Homo sapiens: one gene and its partners. The protein of the gene in region 1 interacts with the protein of each later gene in a pairwise test. Each region holds a gene or a part of one and is shown on either strand. Other genes may lie near its edges. The genes, in order: MAML3, NID2, NFX1, RAI1, ZZZ3 and SCMH1.

Region 1 (3,500 bases):
TGTTTGATTGATTTCACAGTTCTCCAAGATGGGTAATGTGGAAAAAGACAACAGAATTTAGCCTTTTTAAGCTCAAGAGTATAAGACAGGACTGTTACTTAACAAACAGGGAACAGTAATCACACAAGTACTTCAAATATATCCAAGAATTACTATTTAACATGCAAAACAGGTTCTTACACTGGATCCCTTCTATGACACTCACACCAGGGTGAGTGAGTGAATGAGTGAATGTGTGTGTGTGTGTGTGCACGTGCATGCATGAGAGAGAGAAATGCCTTATATTCCTATCTCAACCAAATGGGCAGGAAAACTTCTTTAACAACAGTTGGCCATTAGTCTCACAGCGATATTCAGAAAATAACTCCATATAACTCTATTTTACTATTAAATTCCTCATCCTTCTTCTTCCAGAGATGTCAGTAAACTATGTACAGGACTGCCCATTTTTCTCCTATCAGGTGGCAGAAATCCTAAAAAAGATTCTAAAGTTTGCCCTTATAATTCTAATGAGACAGGATAGAAAGTATCAAGCATACTAGCTTCCTGAAAACTTGGCTTTCCCTGGGAAGGAACTCAGCTTGAAGAGCATTTTGTAGATTATGATTAATGCTTAACTAACTCTGCTTCTACTTTTCTGACCACTGGCTGCCCAGTACTAAATAAAATATACCACAACCAAATAACATAATAGAATTAAACATGTATTGGAGCTTAAAAAAATGCTTCTTGAGAATTAAAAGAAAAAAATACATATGAAGGACAGAAAAAACAAAATTTCAAAAAGTTTTCCACAAACTTAAGGCATGCTGTGTTGGGCAATGGAAAGCTTTCCGAAAGACAGTCTGTCCTGTTACCCATGCTAGCGGCAGAACAGGATAAGCCAAAGAAAAGGTTATCATAGGGAAGATGTAGAAATAGCTTGGTAATACGAGCTTGCCAAAAAAATTGATACAGAGCCAGTAATTTACCTTCAACAGGGTAAGAAATGGGAAGCCAGATTAACGTATAAGGACATTCAGCAGTGGACTAATATGTTGACATTTCCTGAATCTATTCCAGGAATGGATGGAACATTTTGGATGGGTTGTAGTTGTCTCCAATACTCGGTAATAACGCATTTATTATTAAATGCATGTTATGAATTTTTTGTGATAAGCTCTTCAGAACAGGGGTCACATAGATTTATGCAGTCTGTAAGCTGTATATAAATTAAGCACACTCTGAAAGTTACGATGGTGCTAATACAGTGAAGAGGTCATGAAAATAATATGGTCTTATCTAAGTCAACTAAGACTATCACCATTTTAAAATTTTGAAAACTGTGCACTGTCATGCTTTTTGATGTGCCTGCTCAGCTTGAAAATGTACTTGTCAATTGAAATTTGCCTTAAAATTTTAACCAGGACCTCAGTTCCAAATACAGCAAATAAACAATGCCCCCTTTTGTTACCACAAATAATTAAAAGCCATCTTTTCAACTGAGGCTCTCTGATAGGTGAAGTCAATAATTTTCACCAAGTCTTTGAGGGGAAGAAAAAAACTATGTCAATAAAGTGGTGGTGGTTGGGATGGGATCATTTGACTACATGTTCAGAACGGACCTAATACCTGAGGTAGTGCAGCTTCAAACCCAGGTCTGTGCCACCTGCTCTATCAACAGGGCTGGTGAGGACTCACACAGAACCCAGCCCCCTCTGTGGCAGCCTGGAGCCAAGGAAAATTTTTTACCCCTCACCCACTCTGCTTTTTGTTTGCTATTTTTTTGTTGTTGTTTTTCATGCCCATTCTTGTAAATGTGTAAGATAGGAAAACAAATCAAAAGAGGCAAAGCCCTCATTAGACTGCCTTCTTAATCCAAGCGAGGCAGAAAGATAATTAATCGATATTTAGTACTTCGGACATATTGGTCCTTAGAAAGTAAACAATACCAATGAAACAGTAAAGAATCCTATTCATCTTTATTTTTATATCACCGTTATTATTATTTGGTTGTGGGTGATCATTGTTTTTCTTTAGGGCTTTCCAAATAGAGCGCCCAATCTGAGAACTACATTTAATTGTTCTGTGCCTCACTGGAGTACAACTATAATCCTGCAGTCAATTCAAGAAAATGAAGAGCAACGTTTTCTTTACAACCTCTATTTTTGAGATTTTACCTCAATACAGACTGTTAAAATACTCTCAGAAGCCAAGGTTAACTTTTAAACTAATTATTTTAAAAGGAAATATAACTTGTAGAGCATGTTTCTTTCTTTTTTTTTTTTTTTTTTGGTACACAGAATTTACTTGCAACTCTGCTTAAGAGTTAAGGCTTACATTACATTCATCACACTCATCACACATACCAGTGAGAGATGCATGTGAAACAGCTGAAGCTAAAATACACTCCTATTCTGTACACAGCCCTGGCATTTATTAGTGCGTAAGTCTAATCAACAGGCTAAATCATTGTCATAAAATGACAGAAAATTTTATTTTCACGCAGTCATCTTTCAAGTCTATTTGTTGCTAATTTGCTAAACTGGGATTCACTATGAAATCTACAGCTGATGTCTCTGTCTATTGAAGCAAGCATTATCTTTCTATTTTCAAAAGTAAGCTGTGGCTTGGGCTTGCTGTCTTCTTCCCAGTAAGGTCAGGAGGCTGGGCTTGCTTCCACCTGCGAGTGTATCACAAACCAGGCGCGCGCACCCGAGCCCTCCCTCCACCAGGGCGGAAACCAGAGAACACAACCCAAACACCGAAAGTTTCTGGTCGCAAACTCTACTCATCTTGCCGTGTCCAGAGACCCGGCACTGGGAACGGCACTGGCTTTTGTTCCAGGGTCCCCCAGCTGGCGAGGTAAACGCCACAGCAGTCCTTGATCCCCAAAGGTTGTGAGAGATTCTGTGGCACGGGAATTTTGGAGCCTCCCGAAAGGAGCCCATTTCTCCGCAATCCATGCGCGTGGGGTGTACAAATACACGAAAAGAGGACGCGGGGTGGGCAGGCATGAAACCTTCAGTGCCTCTTAAATTCTCAGTCTCAGGTTCACAAAGTGAATCTCCTCCTCCGTGGAAGGGCGCTAGGGGGGCGGGGGCTGGGAGAGAAATAGGTTGGAGAAAGGGACCGGAGCTACAGTCGAGATGCGGGACCGGCCCCGCCTCCGGCTACAATCAGAAAAACTACAGTGTGTCAGTGGTTTTCGGTTTCCTGTTTGTAAAGCGAGAACCTCCCCCGACTCGAACTGTCGTTCTTCCTCAAAACCAACCGAGACGGCCCCTTCTTCGCGCTCGGGGCAGGCTCAGCCGCAGGGGGAGCGGAGAGGAGGGACGCGGGGGCATGGGGGGCGCGGCGGGGCGGGGACAGCCGCGATGAAGCGGGCAGGGCCACGGGGCGCAGCACCCCTCCCAGCCCAGCGGCCCCGGGGTCTGAGCTGGGCCGCGAGGCGGACAAAGCGCCTCCCGCTCCCTCCCCCACGGCCACGTTCCAAAAGGGAGGAAGAAGGCGGGCAAGAG
Region 2 (3,500 bases), on another chromosome or scaffold:
GTACTAGAGGAAGGAGAAAAAACCCCATTTCAAAAAGCTAAGCTTTCAAAGCTCCTGGCATTGATCTGCCATAATAAATGTGAGATAGGAGAGAATCCTGGTTCTAAATTTAGAGAAATTCCATAAGATAAGGAGGTTGTAGAGACTGTGAAGAATTGAAGGGGATGGGGAAGGGGGGAAGAGAGTAGTAAACAGAGCTGTGAAGAGGAGAGTCTGACTTTTTGCTGTGAACTCTGGGCATTTAGCACTTTATTTTATTCATTCATTCATTCAACCAGCCAACAAATTCATTTCAATTAAAATTTATTCAACATCTTCTATATACTGTTCTTGAGATGAGCACTCATTATGGGTGGCAAGTATTTAATTTCTTTGTCTCCACCAAAATAGGCAAATATCAGAGGAAGGAAACAACTTCCTTTTAAGTAGAATTTATGATCCCAAAGTACACGCCAAAAGAGTTTGGCTGTTTAAAAGCCACCCACACACTAAATGATCACTTGTAAAGTTCTTGGTCAGTTCTACAAAATTCTACATCTAATTGCTAAAGAGCCCACTTCATGAAGTCTTGAAGGGCTCCCCCTCTCAAAAAACTCCTTGACTGGCTTCCAAACAGGAAAGGTCCTCACATTCCTAGATACAAGCTTTTGCAAGAGCCGCACAGGCTCTGTCTCCAAAGAGAAGCCCTCAGATGGGCTGCCAAACCTGACAAACGAGTCACTGGTTCCCAGCTCCCCCAGGATCCCAGAGAGGAGAGAGGGGCCTCCACAGGGAGAGGAGCAGCACAGAGAGGATCAGGGTGAGTGGCTGCAGGCCCTGTTATCAGAAAGAGAGAAAAGCCAGAGCCCTCTGCAGAAACCAGAGCCTGACTCTCCCTCCCAGGTACAGGACATCCCAATCAATGTTGAAGTGACACTCATCAGAGCCAGGCTGATGCATGCAACATACACCCCTCTAAGAGTTTCTAATTTTTTCAATTCATTTAATTAACTGCAGCTATCTGGACAAAAATCAGAATAGTGACATCCTTTTCTTCAAGGGGCTTGCCTATAGAGGCTTATCAAAATGAAAATGAAAATGGAAATGAAGAATTAGGGTGACTCTTATAGGGGTCACAAAGTTCTCTTTGTCATCTTCCTCAGGACCACATGTCCTCTAGAGCTCTAGGATCATTGGGTCTGGCCTCCAGTGTTTGCTGTGAACACTAACCTCCATTCCTTAGTGTAGTTCTTCATCTCCCACTGCCTGTAGGACACTGTCACATGGGGGACTGTCCCTCATTTATTTTACTGCACTAAATCCTACAGATCCTGCCAAAAATTCAAAGACAAATGCTGAGTGCTATCACATCCCTAATACTATATCCTTCCTGATACTCTTCAGCAAAACGTCAGCATTTCTAATTTCCATATATGGTTCAGCATTAACCAATTTCCATATATGTCTCTATTCTCTTCATCTTCACAGTGATATCTCAGACTCAGTCTGAACTCTCTTGGATGGGCTGTAGACCACCCCTCTTCTAAACCTTGTCTCCAGAAGTCAAAAAGCTACAATAAAGTCCTGCTTTTACCTCTCATTTTCTCTGTGAAATCCAACCACCTCCATCAATGACTATCAACCTTTGAACCAAGTCAACATGTCTCAGTCTCCACCCAGATGGAGGCCTCCATTGGGCAGTGTCTTAATTTGTCTTCTGTTGTTTACAACAAAATACTTGAAATTGGGTAATTCACAAAGAAAAGGAATTTACTTCTTACAATTATGGAGGCTGAGAAGTCCAAAGTTGAGAGGTCACATCTGGTGAGGGCCTTCTGGCTAGTGGTGACTGCAGAGTGCCAGGGTACTTACGGTATCACATGGCGACAAAGCTGAGTGTGCTAATGTGCTAGCTCAGGTCTCAATTCCTCTTCTTATAAAGCAACCAGGCCCACTCCATGATAATCCAGTAATCCATGAATGAATAAATTAATCCATTCCTGAGGGCAGAGCCCTCATGACCCAGTCACCTTTCAAAGGCCCCACCTCTCAATACTGTCACATTGAGGATTAAGTTTCAACATGATTTTCAGAGGGGACAAATATTCAACCATAGCGGGCAACCTTGCACTCATCTGTCTTATGTTACTGCCTGTGACTCCTTCATCCATTTCTCTGGCCCCTTTGCTAATAGGTTGCTCTCTCAACCTTCTCCTGGGTCATGTTTTTGCTCAGAACAATCTCTCTTGATACCTCATTCTCAATATCCATTCTTTTTAGCCCTTTCAACCTGACTTAAATTCCAGATAAACAAAACATTCCCCACATTACAGAGATCTATATAACTCAGCTGTCTCTAACCCCATCCCTAAAATGACAAAAACAAAACACTCCTCTTTCCCCACAAAAAGCACAGCTAAACATTAGTCCTCTATGTCTCCCATCAATAAGTATTTCAAAGGTCTACACCATAACTTTTTTGCTCTGTGAACTACCTATGAGAGTTCAAGAAATCTCAGATTAACTGAATTGACAAACACTATTTGTTCACATTTTTTTTTCAGATACAATTACACCTTGACATTCCTGCAATATCAGGTGCAACATCTGGTCACACCTGACAGGAATATCCATGGAGAAAAAGGGCACCAACTGCAATTGTTTTTAATGGCAAAGATGCCATTGCTTTGAATCTTCCAGTTTCCAGTAACTTTGCAATATAAAGTTAGTAAGCCAAACTTTAAGAACGCCATGTAGAACTCAGTCCTTCAAGCAAATTAGATTACTGTTTGCCAAAGTCTATCTCCAAAGAACTATTAAAACAAGAACTCAAGTCCCAGAGCTCTTTAAAATATTGGAAGAAACTTCAATGTGGGTAATTGAAAGAACATCCCCTATCCAAACAGAATCCTCCTTTCTTTTTTTTTTTTTTTCCCCTTTCTTTTTTATTTATTTATTTATTTATTTATTTATTTTTTATTATACTCTAAGTTTTAGGGTACATGTGCACATTGTGCAGGTTAGTTACATATGTATACATGTGCCATGCTGGTGCGCTGCACCCACTAACGTGTCATCTAGCATTAGGTATATCTCCCAATGCTATCCCTCCCCCCTCCCCCAACCCCACCACAGTCCCCAGAGTGTGATATTCCCCTTCCTGTGTCCATGTGATCTCATTGTTCAATTCCCACCTATGAGTGAGAATATGCAGTGTTTGGTTTTTTGTTCTTGCGATAGTTTACTGAGAATGATGGTTTCCAATTTCATCCATGTCCCTACAAAGGACATGAACTCATCATTTTTTAAGGCTGCATAGTATTCCATGGTGTATATGTGCCACATTTTCTTAATCCAGTCTATCATTGTTGGACATTTGGGTTGGTTCCAAGTCTTTGCTATTGTGAATAGTGCCGCAATAAACATACGTGTGCATGTGTCTTTATAGCAGCATGATTTATAGTCCTTTGGGTATATACCCAGTAATGGGATGGCTGGGTCAAATGGTATTTCTAGTTTTC
Region 3 (3,500 bases), on another chromosome or scaffold:
AAGCAGAGATGGTAAATATCTATTACTGGGCTGTGGTAAGGATTCAACAAGTTAACTGATGTAGAGTGCCTGGCACAGGGTGATTTGAGACCATTTACTGAGGTCCCATATCACCCTTCATCCCAAACCATTACATGCTAACCAGGTATGTTTACTTAGAGCCACCAGCAAAGCATGTCCACCAGCAATCCCAACGGAATTAGCATTCCAACTTACAGGTTACAGGAATGTGGGCAGTCCTGGCCAGGCTGTTTCTTTCTACAAACCTCACCACAGCTATGTGGAATTTCATTTCTGCTCCACTCAGGATTCTTTACCTTGCCTAGAACATATCAGATCAGAGAGTCAATGGTACAAACTTCAACCACATTCTCAACTTTAATGAAACAGTAAAGTATAGCTAGGCAGCATGCAACTTTAGTGTGGTTTTTATTATTTCAACAAATGTATTATCCCATATCTTAAAATAAAAAGATAAATATAATGCTATTCATAAAAAGTTTCACTGAGTATGATAAATCTTAAATCTTGGATTACCTGGGAAAGATAAATAAAAAGTCACTTTTACTTACGAAAATACTATCTTGACTAATGGAAACGTTTAATTTAAGATAAATACCTATAAGACAAGTCGTCTATAACTGGACTTCTGAACTGATATGCGAATTGCTGCTGGAAGGATCAGAGAGAGGGAATAAGAGAAGAGCACCGTGGGGAAAGGGGGGAGGCAGTAAGAAATGGAAAGGACATAAATCCCGAGTAGCAGGAACTCACCTATTCCAGAACTATAAAGTCGGCATAAAAGACCTTATACTTTTATAATCAATGTCACTGCAAATCTTCATGGCACATCTTCCATGGACTCAGCAGAGACAGGGAAGAGTAAAACGAAGGCACAGGATTCCTCCTTGCCCTTGAGGAATTCATCCTCACTTGGGCAATTTGCACACTAAATTGCAGCCATCCCCAGTCCATGGCCTCTGCTTTTCTCTCTATACTATCTCTTTCAGAAATTTTATTCATGTTGAGAGGTGCAATCCACCTAAAGGCCATTGATCCCCAAATCCACATTTTCTCTCTTGCCCTGAATCTTCAGTTTCAGACCCATATGTCCAAATGTCTGCTGAACATTCTTGCTTGGGGTTTCACAGTCACCTCAAACTGGCTTTATCCACAGTCAAAGTTCACATCTTCCCTCTATAACTCCTCCCTTTTCAGGGTTTCCTATTTCTGTCAGTGACGTCAACTCTGTCAGAGTCACACACGCTCAAAAACTACAGTCATCTCTGACACCTCTTTCTACTTAATCACCAAGTTGTGTCAATTTTTCCTACAAAGTGGCTCTCACCTCATCGCTCTCCTGTTCCTGCCTCTCTAACTGGCCAAAACCTCATCTCCAGACTATCACAAAAGCCTCCCTGCCTCTGTGCTTTTTTGCTCCAATACAGTGCCCTGGTTTTCCTCTAACATCTCTCAAGAGCTCTACCTTTTGTCCCTGACTCCAAATGATGTTTTGGGGTTTTTTGCTTTTCTTTCCCCTGCAAGTGTTCTGCATTACACCCTTTTCTCACTCTGTACCCTTTCATCCGCTAGGGTCTTAACTACTCCTCTCAGCTGTGATTCTCATCCTTAAGTCCTGGTCTTTCCTCAAATATTGCTACCTGCCTGTTGGACATATTTCACTGTATGTTCTGCTCACTCCTCCAGCTCAACATTTCTAAACTGTAGTCACTGTCCCCACCAGACCTTCTTCTTTTGACCTGCCCTTTTCCTTGGTATCACCATTTCCAAAAGCATGAAACTTTGGGTGACTCCCATTCCTACTACTGTCAGGAATCAACCTAACACCATATTTTTCTATCACACTCCTTAGAGGCTTGTACTACTCTTCATCTGGATTATAAGTCCCAAATTATTTAGGCTCCAAAATACTCTACTCACTGCTACCAAACTAATCTCCATAAAGAATCATGTTGATGCCCTCAGTGGCTTCCCACAGCCTTCCAAATGAAGTCCCAACATCTGAGACTGGTATCAAAGGGTCAGCCCTTCCTTTCCAGTCATCTCCCACTCCCCTACCATCATAGATCCTGGGCTCTGTAAGTGGATGAATCACTCTTCTCCCAATATACCCTAAACCCTGTTGATTTTGAACTGCCTATGCTATTCCCTTCAACATATCTTTCTGCCTACAAAGATTTTACCTAGTTTACAATGCCAGTTCAATTCTACCTCCTCCAAGAAGGCTTCTCTTAATCATCCAGCTGTAAGTCGTAACTACCCCAAAGATCTCCCATAGTACTTTGTACTTCTAGCAGAGTATCAGGCTAATTGTGTTTTAACTCTTAGACTGTAAGCTCTGGTAAGTTAACCGTTTTATTCGCCTCTGTTTCTTCACAGTGCCTTGAACATTAATAAGTTCTCAATAAAAACATGTTAAATTAATGGTCCCCTGGAAGAACAGTGTGGGGCAAAGTCATCTGCAAATAAGGCCTTTATGTGCATTCTCACATCATTTTACCACTTTCAGATCATCTTGACCTTCACTCCACATTCTTATACTGCCTTAGAGTCTCTCATCTAATTTGCCAGTAGAGGCTTTAACAAGATTTTTAATTCCATTGTGGTACTTTATGTAATCCTTCAAAATAAGGTATTAAGTATTGGTATTGTCCTATTTGCCCAAATTTCCACTGATCTCTTACTTCCAGTTTCATGCTGCCTTTCTGGTAGTATATTCAAGAATATTTATTCCCTCATCTAATACCAATTTAGTATCTATTAAGGCTGAGATTCTGTCAATAAAACATGTAAGACCGGAAAATTCCAAATAAAACAGAGGCCAAAGTGAGACAGAGAATAACAAAGGAAAGCTTCCTTTGTAAGAGGGTGTTTGGGGTCAGATCTTAAATGATACTGTGGTTAAGAATTGAAAGAAAAGAAGGGGAAGTCAAAGAGTTCACCAAGGTATTGCATCTAGAAGATTCAGAGTTGATGGTAAATGACTTGACTCTTTGTGAAAGCTGCTAGCTAAGTAATGGGAAAGGAGAAATATGAGCAAATTGGTTAGAAAAATAAGGAGAGCATGCAGAAACAAACAGGAAGAGCTACTTATTTCAAGAAGGGAATGGTCAAAGGTGTCAAGGGCTATCACTCTACCAAAAAGATTATGAGCTTATAAAATCAGCCCTAGATATGGCTGGAAAGGAGTCATTGGTGATTTCTTTGTTTTTATTTTATTTATTTATTTTTTTGAGATGGAGTCTCACTCTGTCGCCCAGGCTGGAGTGCAATGGCATGATCTTGGATCATTGCAACCTCTGCCTCCCAGGTTCAAGCGATTCTCCTGCCTCAGCCTCCCAAGTAGCTGGGATTACAGACATGCAACACTATGCCCAGCTAACTTATTTTAGTAGAGACGGGGTTTCACCATGTTGGCCAGGCTGGTGTCGAACTCCTGATCTCAGGTGATCCACCTACCTTGGCCTCCCAAAGTGCTG
Region 4 (4,111 bases), on another chromosome or scaffold:
TTACCTACGATGTATTTCTTACTATAGGTCACGGGCAAGAATTTGAAAGCAATTGGTCTAGGCTTGGGAGTCTAAAGAGGAGTAAGGCTGGGTGCAGTGACTCACTCCTGTAATCCCAGCACTTTGGGAGGCCAAAGAGGGAGGATCGCTTGAGCCCAGGACTTCAAGACCAGCCATGGCAAGACCCCTGTCTCTAGAAAAAAAAAAAAATTTAAAATTAGCTACGTGTGGTGTCGGGCGCCTGTGATCCCAGCTACTCAGGAGACTGATGCTGGAGGATCGCTTGAGCCCTGGAGGTTGAGGCTGAAGTGAGCTGTGTTTGTGCCAAGGCACTCCAGCCTGGGCCACACAGCAAGACCCTGTCTCAAAAATAAAACAAAGAGGAGTAAGACAGGGTCCCTGCCTATGAGAGCCCCACAGTCTAGTGGAAGAGAAAGGCAGCTCCAGTACCCCTGAGTTCCCTTTATCTCCACAGAAGCCAGAGGGATGCTAGGCTGGTGGGAAAGGTCCTATTTTGCCCACTCCACAGTTGGCTTCTGGGGCCTGGATCTCACCTTGATACATTCTCCTCCTCTCCAAGGCTTTTGCTTGTGAGAGCTTTTGCCAGAGTTATGGGGCTGAGCCTGCCCTGAGATCAGAATGATGTGTCCACTTCTGTGTCACGCAAAAGGCCACTTTTCCTTGCTCCTGGGCCCCGAATATACCGGCTTGCCTGTCAAGAGGGGGAGGGGTGGGAAACTAGAAGATTCCTTTCCAGTTTCTAGATCCCGAGGGCCACGTCCCAGGAAAGCCTCTGAAAACCCAGCTGTGTGGTCAGCAGGGAGGGGCCACCATTCAGTCTGCAGCGAGGGCTGCCCCCCACCTGGGGTGGGCCTGACCCTGAGCAGAGCGAGGACTGTATGGAGAATGGAGGGGGGCAGGGGCAGGAAGAGAAGCAGAGCCCCCAGCTCGGGGCTCCCATCACGCTGGCGCCTCCACATCAGAGCTAGCCTAACCCACCCCCGCCTCTCCTCCCAGGGCAGCAGACAACTAAAAAAAGATAAAATAAAAAGAAGTAATTCCCCTGCTCTGACGTCAGCGCGAGGTCTTAACAGCCCGGCAGCGGCATGAAACTGGATTGCAACCAGATGTAATGCCCTTGAATTCTCAACACACTACTGCATTGGAAAGACATAAAAGGGGGGCGGGGGACAGTATTGGTGGGAGGAACCGTGCAGATCCCGAGTGGGTCCCTGAATCCGGGCCCGCCGAAACCGCGGGGAAGGCGGCGCGGGAGAGTGTGCGGCGCGCGGAGCAGCGCCCGGCCGGCTCCGCCATTCAGGCGCGCGGCCTCCCCTCCCCCAGCCCCCACCGGCGCATTGTTACACTCGCTCCCATCCATTCAGAGCCCGAGGCCCGCCGCGCCCCCGCCAGCCCGGGCTCCGCGCAGGAGAGCACCGCGGCAGCCCGCACTCCGGCCCCTGCGTGGACTGGATAACGACCAAGAGCCCCAAGAAAGAAAACTGCTAGCCGGGAAAACGGGCGCCCCAGGAAGCTGGGGCCGCGACGGCCTAGGGCCTGGCTGGTGTTTCGCTTCCCCTCCGCCCCACCACGGAGGCCCCTGGCGCGACCAGGCTCCAAATGTCACCCTCGCGTCCTGCCACCCCTTGTCCCCGCCGCACTCGGCCCCCATGTCCTCCTCCCGGGTTCCCTGCCTTCAAGGCGCGTGAGAGGGGGGGCCGGCCTCGAAAAGGGCGGCGGGCTGCGCCGCCGTCTGTGGGGCGCAAGGCTCGCGTGTCCGGGGCCCCCGCCCGTGACGTCATCCCCGAAGGGCCCGTGCCTCCCGGGCCTGGCCGCTACAGAGCTCCCCAGGTCGCGGGGGCCGCTTCCTGCCCGGCCTCGGGGCCTGCGCACAGGCCCCGGGGCCGCTGCCCGGGTAGGGACACCGCAGAGAGCCCGAGCACCCATCTCGCCACGCACGGCCTTCGCCGGCCCTGACTCCCAAGCGATGGCCACGCCGGGCCCGGGTCACGCATGGGGAAGTCAGCTCCCCGTCCCCCACCTCGGACGCACTCACAAAGCTCACCTCCGCCCCCGGCGCCCCGCGAATGCACCCCACGTCCCCACCCCACGCTCCGCAAAGACTCCGCGCCTCGGCGCAAGCAGATCCCTTGCCACACTCGCCCCTCGCGCCCCCATGCCCCCACCCGACCTCAGCTGGCCGCACATCCCCCAGAAGACCCTCAGCCGCGGCGCAGGGCGCCCCCACCCTGCAGCTCCCCAGACGTCCATCCGGTGACCTCGCGCACCCCCCACACCACACAAAGCAAGGACCCCGCGGACCCCACATCTCCACCCAGCGCGCGCGCTCGGCGTCCGAACCCGCCTCGGCTCATCACCCGGCCTAGGATCCCGACGCCTCGCGCCGCCCCCGCCCCGGGGCAGGATACACTGCGCCCCCCGCGCCCCGGCGCTCGCTGCTCACCTCGGCGCCCGCGCTCACTCGGGGGCCTTGGGTCTGGCGCTGCGACTTCGCGGCCCGGAGGCCTGGGTGGCCATGGGGGTCGGGGCGCGGCGGCCCGGCCGGCCCGCGGCCAGGCAGGAAGGAGGGTGGGCCGCGGCGCCCCCTCCTCGCGCCGGCGCTAGGGCCGCGGGCAGGGCGGCCTGCTCGGCTCGCCTCTCGCCCTCGCTGCACTCGCTCTCCCACTCGTCTCTCGGAGCCCAGCCGCGGGCGGGGGCGGCGCCCGGGGACGCGGGGAGCGGGCCTTGGCCGCGCACCCGGCCGGGCCTGCCTGGTGTCCGCGGGTGCCGCGAGGAATGCGATCCCCTCCGCACAGGAAGAGCGGACGAGCGGACGGGCGGGCGGGCGACGCGCGGGGGGAGAAGGAGAGCAAGAGCGCGAGGAAAAAAGTTCCCGGGCGGCCTGGCTGCGCTCGCTCGCGGCCCCGGGCGCCAGGTGGGCCGTGCGCGCCCCGACAGCACCCCCTGGCGGTCCGCGCGCCCCACTGCGCGCCCCCCGCCCGCTGGCCGGCCTGCGGGAGGGGGCCTCTGCGGTGGGATCCCGGTGCGGCCTGGGAGGACACTAGCGCCCTGCGTACAGGAGCTTCCAGCGTCAGGCCAGGCCCCCACCCTCACCCCACCATTAGCCCTCACCTGTGCCCACTTCTTTGCAGTTTGAGAAACATTTTCGATTTCAAAACTCCATTGGCTTCATGTAAACTTCATTTACTGGGCACCTGGCACCTTGCTGAGTCTTGAGGAATCAGCAGAGACAATGCGGTCCCTGCTGTCGTGGAGCTGGCATCCTGGTGGGAAGAGACAGACAGCAAACAAATGCTTAGATACATGACGAAGATAATTTTAGAGCAGTAAGTGCTAGGACGAAAATTAGCAGGTGAAGTGACGGCTAGGGCTCCTTGGCTGGGGGAGAGAGAAGGAGGCCTGTCTGTGCAAAGATCTAAATAGCAAGAGGAACCGCCATGGGTAGAGTCTGGGAAGAGCATTTTGTTCTTTTAGAGGCAGGGTCTTGCTGTGTTGCCCAGGCCGAACTTGAATTCCTGGCCTCAAACAGTCCTCCCACCTCAGCCTTCTGAGTAGCTGGGACTACAGGGGCCTGCCCTCCTGGGAAGAGCATCATTGGCAGAAAGAACATCAAGTGCAAAGGTCCTGAGGCAGGAGAGAACTTGGTGAGTAAGTGGAATTGTGAGGAGGCCGTCAGCAAGGGGACAAGTAATGGGCACATTGAAGTCAGAGCCATATCGGGAGGGCCAGAGCCTGCAGGGCTGCAGAGAGCTCAGTGAGGAATTTGTTTGCAATTCTAGTGCAAGGAAGGTAGCCACTGGCAGACTTTAAACAGAGGCATGTTGAATGAGAGAGTCCTTGCATGAAACTTAAGGTACAGACCTCGGAGCAATTTCATGCCTAGGTCTCTACTTGCCATAGCTCAGGTGGGAGCTCACTGCCACCTGCTTGGGAAGCCTCTCAGCCCCACCCAGGCTCTAGGGTCTGTGGGATATGACCCCATTAACAGCCCCATCGAAGCCTCCCTCATTTGTCCTTTGGTAGGGCAGAGGGGAGCTGGTCAAGGCATCAGAGCTTGTGGGTGACCTGGGACAAGTGAATCCTGCATCTG
Region 5 (2,871 bases), on another chromosome or scaffold:
TAGGCAGTTTTCTTTGATGAGTTGTACTGACAACTCCAAATACAGAGGCAGAAGGCTGTGTATTTTAAAGGAATTAATGTTGTGAATTAGAAACTTTACACAGTTACTACCACTGGCACTTTTCACCATAGTTTGTACACATCACATGATCATCTTATATAACATTACATTTAAAAAATATATCTGAGTGACAATTTTATAACATTCACACACCATGAGCTGGTTAAGGAAGCAATGCCACAGTTGCCTCCTGTAGTGCTTCACTGTTGGTAATTAAGGACAATTCATTGTGGTTAAAAGAAATTAGATATCAATATGATTAAGCAGCTCCAATTTACTAAAGGCCATCAATGACCACCACTGGGACAGTGAGTTCTTTTAAAGTGTATATCCTAGAAGCAAACACCATCATTGGTTAAAACTTTGTCTAAAGAAGTCAGTTTCTGTGCTGAAAACTATTTTCACAAAACTGAAGGCTACTAAACTGTTTTAATATAAATACTTTGTCTTCTCATTATCATATTTATGACCAAGTTCTTTGAAACCTTTGGAATTTACTCTCTCTTTAATGTGTGCTCTCGTTCCATCTCACCCATTTAAGATCACCACCTAAAACGCAGTGGTGAAAAATTCACCAGGGAAACCTTTGCTCACCAGGAATGTTCAGCTGCTGAACAGTGATCTAGAGCCACAACGGTGCAGAGCTGTACTTGACGAGAACACTCAGGAAGCTCTCATGCTGTGAGTGTCATTTCTGGGAAAGCAGAGAATCTTTCCAAACTGTGCACATAATTAACAATGATACCATTGCTATGTGTTGAAGAGGACTAGTAAATGATGTTCTCTTCCATGTCATCTGTTTGCTGGAAAGTAGTTTGGGTCAAGGTAATTGTAACTGGTGCCCTGAGACACACAGTAGTCTCTGTCTAAGAATGTCTCTGACCTATAAATAGGTTCTAATTGGTGATCTTCCTTGTGAATATCTGTTTCATGTAGACTGTAAAGAAAAAAAGACACACATCATTACATGGTAGTGGATGCATTTTAGTCTGTGTATTACAAAGCTTCCTCACAGCTCTCCCTGTTTAAATCCATTAATCTATCAAAATCTCCAACGGAAAGTTACTTGACATGTGGTATGATTACAGAAAAAAATTAATTGCCTAGAACAACAAAATTTAATTCACTAAGTGTGGGTATTAATATTTTCTATGTTTGGAAATCAAATTCACTAATGGCTGAGAAGCTCTTTTCTTGTCTAAGTTGAAGACTGACAATGAAGAAAACACTTACCAGTCTGAACAAGAATCACAGAAATCCAAAGACATTTCTGGAGGACAATCCTGGCAATGCCACCGAACACCCTGGATGGGTTCTATGCCACAGTTATCACACTATAACAGATTCAGAGAGAAAATGTATTAAGTTATACTGTTCCACGATCTTTTTTATTTTCCACAAGGAAACACATGATGTGCACACAGACATCTTCTCTTCTCTCTCCATGCACAGGACAGTAATATAACACACAAATGGTTATGTGTTAGAGACAATTTCTAGCAAACTAGGTAAAATTCCATCCACTCAATATCAAGATATGGGTGAGTGAGAGGAACATTGGAAGGGATAATCTTCAATCAGCTTAAATTTATTTAAAAATTTTTAAAAGTAAATCATCTCCAACTTGGGTGTTTTGTTATTTGTAATCATCTACTTGAAAGGTACCTCAGACCACTGTATGATGACTATGGTTGAGAAACAGAGAGTTAATACCATAGTTAAAACTATCCAAATACTGGTTAAGGAAGCAATGCCACAGCTGCCTCCTGTAGTGCTTCACTGTTGGTAATTGATACAGAATTGTTTTAGCAGGTTCTCTTGGCTAACATAAACCCAGGCAACAATGAAATTCTGTCTAAACTTTTATCTCTTATTGAATCGCTCTCCCAAAGCCTAAAGACTCCTAATAACCAATGCCCATCATGTCAAAAAGGCAGATCTAGCTCTTTCTCAGCGTGGTGGCATTGTGACAGTCCTCAGTGTGTTCTGTGCACTTTTGGAAATCAAAGGATCTATCATTTCTAGTTTCTTTGATCATCTGGTCAACTATAGTGGCTGACAGAATGGCAAACAAGCCATGGCTGGGTTTTGCAGCAAAATTAGGAGAAGTGAAGCAAGTTTTTCTGAAAGGCCAGAGCTGCCAGTTAGGAAAATCTCTATTGGAGAAACAGGGTCACTGAAAGATCAAGAGGGAAAATCATTTAATATAGTATGGTTACTGGCTACTCTAGAGGATCAAAGGTATAACTTTGTTTTTAATTTGGTTTACCAGTCACAGCACACATCAGTACTTTCATGTGCACCCACCAACACCACCAAGTTTATGGTCTCATTATTACTTCCTCCAGTCCAACCAAGTCAATTCTAATGCCTAAAGGCTTCTCAAACTTGCCAATCTTTATTTCCATGGCCACCAGTCAAGTTCAGGACACCCTCCTCTTTTGTCTAAATTATCAAAAGAATCTCTAACCAGTTTCCTTGACTCTAGTCTTGCCTTCCTCTAATTAAGTTTCCATACTATGGCCAAAATGATGAGGGGAAAAGCTGGTCAGTTCCAAACCCACTGCTTTCCTAAAGATCATCACCCCCAATAGTTTAAGTAACTAGAATGATTCTTTCCAAAACGTAAATGTCATGTTACTTTCTGCTTAAAATCATTCAATGGTTCCCCCCACCAACCTCTCAGGATAGTGTGAGCTCCTTGGCAAAATTTATAAGGCGGTGCAAGCAGCCTCTAACTACTCTCTAGTATGTACTCTAGCCACGCTCAACTATTTTGTTTAACTTCTCTAAATTCCTTATGAGAATGAA
Region 6 (2,605 bases), on another chromosome or scaffold:
TGGGAGGCAGAAGTTGCAGTGAGCTGAGATGGCGCCACTGCACTCCAGCCCCTGGGTGACAGAGCGAGACTCCATCTCAAAGAAACCAAAAAACCAGCTTCTGCCTTAGTGTATCAGGCTGTAATGAGGTCACCTATTCTCCAGGCCTTGGAAAAGAATCCAGGGTATTTTTTGCCCACGTGCCAAGGATTTGTCTCTAATCTTACCAGGCTACCAGTCTCTCTAGAAATGGTCCCCCAGAGCCAAGGCAAAAACAGCCCCACTCACCAGGCCCCCCAGACACCCAAATAGTCCCCTTACCATGTTGGTACCACTGTCTCAGGTTTGGGCTGAATCATAGCCTCAATGCAAAATTTCTTCTGGCCATTTCCAAAAATCAGATCTACCCTTAAAAAACAAAGATTTGGCTTTCCCTTTGTGAAGAAATGCTTCCCTCCCCCAGCTATCTCCAGTTCCTCAGCTCATCGTCTGGCACTACTGTGAGCATCACCTAGAAGGCCACTGAGATGTGCCAAGGAGAGTGGTGGGGATTTACAAACCAGTCCCCGCCCTTTATGGTAGGTGCCCTCCTGTCCTGCAGGGTCGGACCGATACCTGGAGAGCCGCGATGCCTCTCGACTGAGTGGCCGGGACCCCTCCTCATGGACAGTCGAGGATGTGATGCAGTTTGTCCGGGAAGCTGATCCTCAGCTTGGACCCCACGCTGACCTGTTTCGCAAACACGTAGGTGCTGCTGCCTGACCTCTCAGTAGGAACCTGTGTGGAGAGCCTCACCTGGTGGGGACAATACGAGATGTTTGGGGAGGAGGGATGCTTAGAGACAAAGGCTGAGGAGAACAGGTAGGCTTCAGCATCACAGCAGGTGAACTGGACTCCATGTGGCGGGCACTTCCCAGGATGGCCTATAATCAGAACCTGGGGTGGTCAGACCAACCAGGACTCTGATGGTGCCTCCCTTCCACTTCTGCCCACCTCCCCACCCCCCAGGAGATCGATGGCAAGGCCCTGCTGCTGCTGCGCAGTGACATGATGATGAAGTACATGGGCCTGAAGCTGGGGCCTGCACTCAAGCTCTCCTACCACATTGACCGGCTGAAGCAGGGCAAGTTCTGAACCAGGAGAGGCAGCCTAGACAACCAAGTGGCAGCAGGTGGGGGCATTCTTCTAGGAATGAGGGGCATCAGCCCACCCCAGGCACCTCAGTGGGGTTCCGGGCCACCTCAGGACTCCAAGAGGCTGTGTGGAGCCACCACTCCTAGCCACAGCTGCCATGATAAGTCCTTCCATGAAGGACTGAGGAGGGAGAGTGGGGGTCCAGGGCTGGTGCTGCTCTTCCCTCAGCTCTGCCGGGGCTCTAAGGTCCCTCTATTTATTTCTCAACCCTGGCTGGCCTCTCACCAGGAGTTTAGGCTGAATGCCTTCCACGTGATGGAGGAAAAGGCCAACTCTGTCCTGGTCTTGCTGTGGCACCCCATCGCCCCACAGCTCGTACCTTCTCACCAGATTCCCCTGAATCCAAACTCGTGGTGCAAACCTCTACCTTTTTTACAAAAAGATCTTATTGTTAATTTATTGTTTCTGGCACTTGGGCAAACCCTGTAGTTAATACTCCTCCCACACTAGACACTGGGTTTCAGGAGGAGGGAGACTGCCCTGCTTTGGTCCCAGAGAGGCCCTCTGCAGATAGGCGTGGCCCCTCTTCAGAGGACACTACCCTAGGGCACTTTCTCTTTGAGGTGGAGAGACCCATAAAGCCTTGACCACATCACTCCATATGGGGAGGAGAAGGATCCCTGTCACCTTCTCCTCTCTTCACGGGGCCCTTTTGCAGCCCTAGGCCTCATCTGTGGGAAGGGAGTCCCTGGCTTATACTGCCCCCACCACAGCTCCTTGCCCTGGCCAGAACTGCTGTCGAAGAAAATCAGGCCGGAAGGCCAAGAAGGCGCTAAGGGGGATGGGAGGGCAGGTTTTCCAGGCTGGAGTCGGTTCCACCCACTCGCCTGTCCACAGGCTTCCTTGTAAGCAAGTCAGCAGCACAGCTACTCACGCTGCCATCTGGACTTATTTTATGTCAATCTGTTTATAAATAAAAACCAATATAGATACCAGTGTCTTTTTAATCAGTTAACAGCCAAATCACTACGCATTCATTGGACCAGTCATTCCCCTTCTCTTGGTCTTAGTTTTCTCATACATAAAACGAGGCCGAGCACGCTGGCTCATGCCTGTAATCCCAGCACTTTGGGACGCCAAGGTGGGAGGATCTCTTGAGCTCAGGAGTTTGAGACCAGCCTGGGCAACATGGTGAAACCCCAGCTCTACAAAAAAAAAATACAAAAATTAGCCTGCTGTGGTGGCGCACACCTGTAGTCCCAGCTGCTTGGGGAGCTGAGGTGAGGGGATGGCTTGAGCCTAGGAGATCGAGGCTGCAGTGAGCCGTGTTCGCACCACTGTACTCCAGCCTAGGTGACAATTTGAGACCCTGTCTCAAATAAATAAAATGGAGAGCTTGGAAAAAATGATTCCTAAGCGTCCTTCTAATTCCAGCAGTCCCTAAAGAACAGGTGGTCTTCCGAATGTCCACCAGAGCCCCAGCATCACACAG

What was found.
Region 2: the proteins of MAML3 (region 1) and NID2 interact in a two-hybrid assay, tested with the Homo sapiens proteins (one large-scale study listed by BioGRID).
Region 3: the proteins of MAML3 (region 1) and NFX1 interact in a two-hybrid assay, tested with the Homo sapiens proteins (one large-scale study listed by BioGRID and IntAct).
Region 4: the proteins of MAML3 (region 1) and RAI1 interact in a two-hybrid assay, tested with the Homo sapiens proteins (one large-scale study listed by BioGRID and IntAct).
Region 5: the proteins of MAML3 (region 1) and ZZZ3 interact in a two-hybrid assay, tested with the Homo sapiens proteins (one large-scale study listed by BioGRID and IntAct).
Region 6: the proteins of MAML3 (region 1) and SCMH1 interact in a two-hybrid assay, tested with the Homo sapiens proteins (one large-scale study listed by BioGRID and IntAct).

The regions. Positions count from the first base shown.
Region 1 is NC_000004.12:140,147,685-140,151,184, forward strand, and holds part of MAML3 (mastermind-like protein 3), read right to left. Parts: intron 1-3,500. UniProt on the Homo sapiens protein: Acts as a transcriptional coactivator for NOTCH proteins. Has been shown to amplify NOTCH-induced transcription of HES1.
Region 2 is NC_000014.9:52,062,560-52,066,059, forward strand, and holds part of NID2 (nidogen-2 precursor), read right to left. Parts: intron 1-3,500.
Region 3 is NC_000009.12:33,304,016-33,307,515, reverse strand, and holds part of NFX1 (transcriptional repressor NF-X1), read right to left. Parts: intron 323-3,500; coding exon 217-322; intron 1-216. UniProt on the Homo sapiens protein: Binds to the X-box motif of MHC class II genes and represses their expression. May play an important role in regulating the duration of an inflammatory response by limiting the period in which MHC class II molecules are induced by interferon-gamma.
Region 4 is NC_000017.11:17,680,147-17,684,257, reverse strand, and holds the start of RAI1 (retinoic acid-induced protein 1), read right to left. Parts: upstream 2,801-4,111; 5' UTR 2,465-2,800; intron 713-2,464; exon of another isoform or gene 555-712; intron 194-554; exon of another isoform or gene 1-193. UniProt on the Homo sapiens protein: Transcriptional regulator of the circadian clock components: CLOCK, BMAL1, BMAL2, PER1/3, CRY1/2, NR1D1/2 and RORA/C. Positively regulates the transcriptional activity of CLOCK a core component of the circadian clock.
Region 5 is NC_000001.11:77,564,788-77,567,658, forward strand, and holds part of ZZZ3 (ZZ-type zinc finger-containing protein 3), read right to left. Parts: intron 1,395-2,871; coding exon 1,294-1,394; intron 998-1,293; coding exon 853-997; 3' UTR 1-852.
Region 6 is NC_000001.11:41,026,702-41,029,306, reverse strand, and holds the end of SCMH1 (polycomb protein SCMH1), read left to right. Parts: intron 1-561; coding exon of another isoform or gene 562-580; coding exon 581-723; exon of another isoform or gene 724-774; intron 775-987; coding exon 988-1,113; 3' UTR 1,114-2,105; downstream 2,106-2,605. UniProt on the Homo sapiens protein: Associates with Polycomb group (PcG) multiprotein complexes; the complex class is required to maintain the transcriptionally repressive state of some genes.